2 separate regions of the Homo sapiens genome follow, and region 2 is linked to region 1. Evidence: fine-mapped expression QTL. A gene starts in region 1. The other region holds a variant in brackets. All regions are shown on one strand. Distances are between the middles of the regions. Region 1 holds the start of LIFR-AS1 (LIFR antisense RNA 1). Region 2 overlaps LIFR-AS1 (LIFR antisense RNA 1).

The links.
Region 2: its variant is fine-mapped to the expression of LIFR-AS1 in tibial artery (GTEx, PIP 0.93).

The regions. Positions count from the first base shown.
Region 1 is chr5:38,555,601-38,558,100 of GRCh38, forward strand. It overlaps LIFR-AS1 (LIFR antisense RNA 1), which reads left to right and starts at 1,186. Exons shown (of 9, transcript NR_103554.1): 1 at 1,186-2,500. It overlaps LIFR (LIF receptor subunit alpha), which reads right to left and starts at 1,046. Exons shown (of 20, transcript NM_001127671.2): 1 at 734-1,046. MIR3650 (microRNA 3650) reads right to left here and starts at 1,961; the gene lies at 1,902-1,961. RefSeq lists enhancers at 1,187-1,970, 1,323-1,432.
Region 2 is chr5:38,594,869-38,597,888 of GRCh38, forward strand. It overlaps LIFR-AS1 (LIFR antisense RNA 1), which reads left to right. Exons shown (of 9, transcript NR_103554.1): 2 at 54-201. It also overlaps a transcript of LIFR not described here. Among named protein-coding and RNA genes, the nearest start is that of MIR3650, 39 kb to the left of the region's middle. The variant A/G (reference allele first, on the strand shown) is at 1,498.

The sequences.
Region 1 (2,500 bases):
TCAATAACAATACAGGTTATAACAATATTTGACTGCATTAAACATTCAAAAAGGAACACAAAGATACCCAACTGCAAATAAAAGACCTCATATATTTTTGGTAGCGGAATGTGGGGGGTGGGGGGCAAAAATCACATTAATTCAGATTAATCATGTAAATTCAGAACACGTGATGTGCAGTTTTGTGTCGCTCAGAACTCCTGAATCCAGCTTTGTGCTTTTACACAACATAACAGAAATGGCATCTTTCACAAAGCCTAACTTTGACCTCCAACACTTTAACTTTGGGTTTAACCAGTACACCACCTTCGGAAGTTAGCACATAAAAATACAGGTAAGTCAAATGCACTACGGATACAGAAAGGACGAGGAACAGGTTTAAAGGGGAGTTGAAGCAGAGGGGCACGAAATCACCTGGCAGGTCACCTCTCCGAAGGAAAAACATTTCAAGCTCCCTCCCATCCCCCAGGTAACCTCTGGCCTCAGAACTCACTGCCCTGCGTGGGGCAGAAGTTCTGGGCGCTGGAGTCCGCGTCCCCCAGGACACGAGGGTGACCCAAGGGCGCGCGGAGAGCGGCGGGACCCGGAGCGGCGCTCTCCGGGGTCACTCCCCTAGGACGCTCCGCAGAGCTGGGAGCGCTGCCCCACCCCGCCCGGGCCGCCCCTGGGGACCCCGCTCGGGGCTCCGCGGCTCCCCTGCTCCGCGCCGCGCCCACCCGCCCCCAGGACTCACGGTACGCTCCCGCGCCGCTATCTTGCCATCCCCTGCCGCCGGCTCTGTAGCCTCGGCCGCCGCCCCGGGGCTGCCCAGATCCCACAGCCGCCCGGGGGCAGGAGCCGCCAAGGAGGGGGCCGGGCACAATGCGCCGCCGCCTCCGCAGCCGCCGTCTCGCCTCCCCTGTGTCGGCGCGAGGCTGCTTGAGGCGGCCACGGGCGAAGGGCGGCCCGCTGCGCTCCGCGAACCCCGCGGGCCGCCGCCGCCGCCAGAGCCTCCCAGAGGCAACGGTAACGGCCACCGCCACGGCCGAGTCGCTCCAGCCGGGACTGCGGCGCGCGGGGGCGGCGCCTGCACGCCGCTCGGCTGGGGGCGCAGCGGGCCCGGCCCCGCCCCTGACCCGCCCCTGCCCCCGGCCCCGGCCCCGCCCCAACCCGCGCGCCCCCGCCGATCCCCGGCCGCGCGCCCGCGCGCGCGGGTGCTCCAAGGAGTCGGAGGAACGCGGCCGCGCGACGGGCCCCGGACGCCGAGGGTGGTGCTTCCTCCGAGCCTCCGGTGGTGAGGCCGCTCTCAGAAGGTCATGGAAGCGCAGGGGAGAGCGAGGCGGCCGAGCCCAGGCAAATCCTCGAGAAAGGCCGAGTGCGCGACGGCTCTGCGGGGAGGACCGCGCCTCCCCGAATGCGGCCGCTGCTGCCGCTGCAAACAGTGCCTTGAGGAGAGGAAAGCGGGGAACCGTGTTTTCGCCGCCTCTGTAACCACTGCACACAAGAAAACCAGCTTCTGGGAGAGGGGGATGATTGTTGGGACTTTGCGAATTACCTAAACAGCCCAGGGCCGAGGCGCCGCCGCTCGCGTCCTGGTCCTCCTGCCGGGTGTGGGGCTCCCCTGCCCGAGATGGCCAGCGGGCGCGCCGAGAGTATCCTGGAGCCATCTAGTCTTGCCTCGGAGGCGGGGTGGGCTTATTTGTGCGGAGAAGAAACGGATCTCTTAATGGGGTGAGATTTTTCCTCCGTACATTGTTCCCATTTCCGCAGTTTCACTTGGCCTCGGTTTTCTAGCAGAGTAATCACCAAATGAAATTAGCTGGAGAGCGTTTGATGGCGCAGAATCACGGTCTGAAGATGTTTACGCTGTATGCCGGACGCGTTTGATGGTGTTCTCTTCGGCACAATTAATTTTGCAAAGTTCAGAAATGTGCCAGACAGAGCCCCTGGCACGCAGTCAGGACTCTACAGACACACCTTGAGTAGGAAACAGGCTTGTTTGTTTCATCTGTGATTTATGTGATGCACCAGCACCAAGGCCAACGTGTTTTTTAAAGACCTTTCGATGAAACTCCAAAGCAATTTATAAATTGGCAAAATGAAGCTTGTTTTGTAAAATAACTCTTCCTTGTTGATCATGTAATTAAATGGGCAACAAAACACCTGAAAGGACATTTACTGAAAAGTAGACTCCCAAAACAAAAATATGTATTTCACAGCTAGATACGGTCGCTATTAGCGTCCTAATGGCCAACTCCATCCATGTGCGTATTTTGAACACTAAAAACGCCTCCTGTTACCCCTAAGACCTTGTTTGGATAACATTTTTCTATTATAAGTACTCGAAACCAACCCCATTTAAGATGTTTACCCTTATTCTTGAGTCCTTGATGGTTTGGGAAATTTATCATTATTCATATTGCACAATCCTGTCACTGTCTTTTCCATTAGGCACAGTGCCTAAGGTCCACAATATTTTTAGAGGCCCACAAAAAATATTTTAATTTCTTTTCAAATCAGA
Region 2 (3,020 bases), 40 kb after region 1:
TTGGTGAGCAGTGTGCAAGCTGGATTTTCCTAACCACTTGCTCTCTTCCTCAGGTGTCTGTGCGGTGCAGAAACTGTACAACTGTATACAGTGACCATTTCTACTCTGGGTCTCTAAACAAGGGCTGGTATCGTTACAGAGACTGAAGACTGAGGAAGACCATCTCTGTAGGATGCCAAGGATTGACTGGAGAAAGTCTGGGTAAGTACAGGTCACAGGAAACCACACAAGAAATACACTTTTGTAGGACAAAGAGGTAAGGTCAGAGCCCTGAGAGACCCTCACAACTGGTATTAAAGCAGAGTGAAAAGAAATCTAAAGGGGGGACAGGTCTAAGGGGACATGGGACACAAAGCCAGGAAGGAAGGAAGCAAACCCCAGCAGTGCTGTACCTGGAGGGCGATGAATGAGTCGCAGAGGCTCCCTTTCTGAGCTGGGATTAGGAGTTGATAATGGTCTTGCAAGTGCAGTTCTGCAGAGCGAAAGGGCCCGGTGCCTTGCAGCAGAGACACGTTCTGGGAGAGAGGGTTAGGATTTGAGTAAGTTCACACTAGGAGGCTATATATACATGTGTGGCATTGCCCAGGGACTGGAGGGAAAGAGGAGAAGGAAATGCATCACAACAATGACTGGAATGCATCAGCAGTGCAAAACAAAACTCTTGGGAAAACCAAATTGTGTCTTGGATTGTGGTTCAAGGAACTAGTAATGGGATAAAAAGCTTTTGCCTCCAGGCCAGCAGCATGAGTCCAACCCAGGTTAGGAGTCAGCAGTGTGTTTCAGATGTCAGTGTGAAAGGAATCCATGGGGCCAATCTAACCTTCTAGTATTAGAGTAATCCTGAAAACCACAATAGGTCTTTTTTTTTTTTTTTTTTTTTTTGAAACAGAGTCTCGCTCTGTCTCCCAAGCTGGAGTGCAGCGGCTCGATCTCGGCTCACTGCAAGCTCCGCCTCCCGGGTTCCTGCCATTCTCCTGCCTCAGCCTCCCGAGTAGCTGGGACTACAAGGCGCCCGCCACCGCGCCCGGCTAATTTTTTTGCATTTTTTCAGTAGAGACGGGGTTTCACCGTGTTAGCCAGGATGGTCTCGATCTCCTGACCTCGTGATCCACCTGCCTCGGCCTCCCAAAGTGCTGGGATGACAGGCGTGAGCCACCGCGCCCGGCCCACAATAGGTAATCTTAGCAGCCTGCTTCATGAGATGACTGGGAAGGGAAGATGAATTGTGATACTGGCTCATTCTTAGCCACGGAGGGAGCCTCTTTAGAATAAGACTGGAGCAATATGGACAATTTGTACCACTCCTTTATATATAGGCCAATGCTCCTCGAAGCTTGATTCATGGACCAGTTGCACCCAAATCACCCTGGGCTGCTTATTAGCAATGCAAACTTTCCTGGGTCCACTCTAGACCAAGTGAATCTGCATCGTTAGGTATGGGATCTGGGAATCTGCATTTTAGCTTCTTATGTGATTCTTGTGTACACCGAAGTTTGA[A/G]GATTATTGGGGCAGATCAGAGGTTCTCAAACTTTAGCAAGCATGAGAATCACATCACTTAAAGGGCTTGTGAGCTTACAGGTGCCTGGGCCCCACCTCCAGAGTTTCCAATTCACTATCTGGGATGGGGCTTGAGAAGTTACATTTCTAAAACATTTCCAGGTCATGCTGCTGGACTAGAGACCACACTTTGAGAACCATTGCTGTAAATAGAGCTCTTTACCTGGCTCGGACAGTGTAAAATCGCCCTTACCATTCATCCACATAATTCAGCTAGCTTCTACCATCCTGTCATATAGATGACTAACACCCATGACCTCTTTTTCACCTTGTTAGATAACTTCCAGTTTTAAATTGACAATATGAAAAACGATCACACCTGGTCAACCCTAATCTTGTATATTGTTCTGGTTCCAAATGTTTATATTATTATCAACACTGTCCTTTCCTCATTTTTGGCGGTGACCTGTTCAACTTTGTGTTACCTTGGGCTTCAAAATGCAAAATCAGCTCCTTTCTTTGCTTGCCATAAGAAATGGCATGCAAGAAAAAAAAAAAATGCTTCCAAAATAGAGGAACCTGAAAATATTCTGAAATTCAGAAGGTGTTATTTTGGGGAGCCTTTCTGGGACAGGATGTCCCCATCATCAGCTAGAGGAAGCCCAGCTTCTGATAAACAAAGTTGTGCCTTGCACAGATCAAAGGGAGCCATTTATTGAAGGAAGGGATGGAAGTATTTGATGAGGCCCTTCTGCAGACTCCCTGTAAACAGGATAAACCCTATCAATGAAAGCTTATACTCAGCCAGGCCACAGTCCCCAGGAACAATGGAGCAACAAGAACATTGGGTGGTGAGGAAAGAGCCTTGGTCCAGACAAGATTGTTCTGCCAAGAGAATGGCCGTAAACAGGATTAGTTGTAATGAGATTATGAACTTAGGACCTGGAGGCCTGAGCTGGAGAGTTCAGTGTTACATAAAGAAAAGACACAGAAGTAGCTCGTGGGGTGAGAGGATGCCAAAAGGACAAGGACTTTTCCTTCCTAGCATCCCTCTAGCCCAGGGGTGCCATCTCTCTGGGGAGGAAAAATTAGTCACTGTAATTGCACATATTGCTTGTGGGAGTAGACAAACTAGGGACTAAAGCACCAAAGTAGTGGGCCTCAATTAGGGGATGCTGGCAATGTCTGAAGACATTTTTGGTTGTCACAACTGGGTGAGGTAGTGCTACTAGCATCCAAAGGCAGAGGCCAGGGATGCTGCTCAGTATCCTACAATGCACAGGACAGCCTTGCACAACTAAGAAATATCCAGCCCCAAATGCAGAGGTTGAGAACCCCTGTGCTGGAGTGACGGAGAGGGAATCCAGCTAGGATGCTGGTAGATGACCAGCTGGAGACGGAGCGTGGCAGTGGTGGGGAGGGAAGGGGCAAGTATTTCATGGGCTTAGTCTAGAGGGACTTCACATTAGCAGTCCTCAGAAGGTGAAAGTTGGTTGTTGAGTGGGGGTGCATGGAGCAAGAAA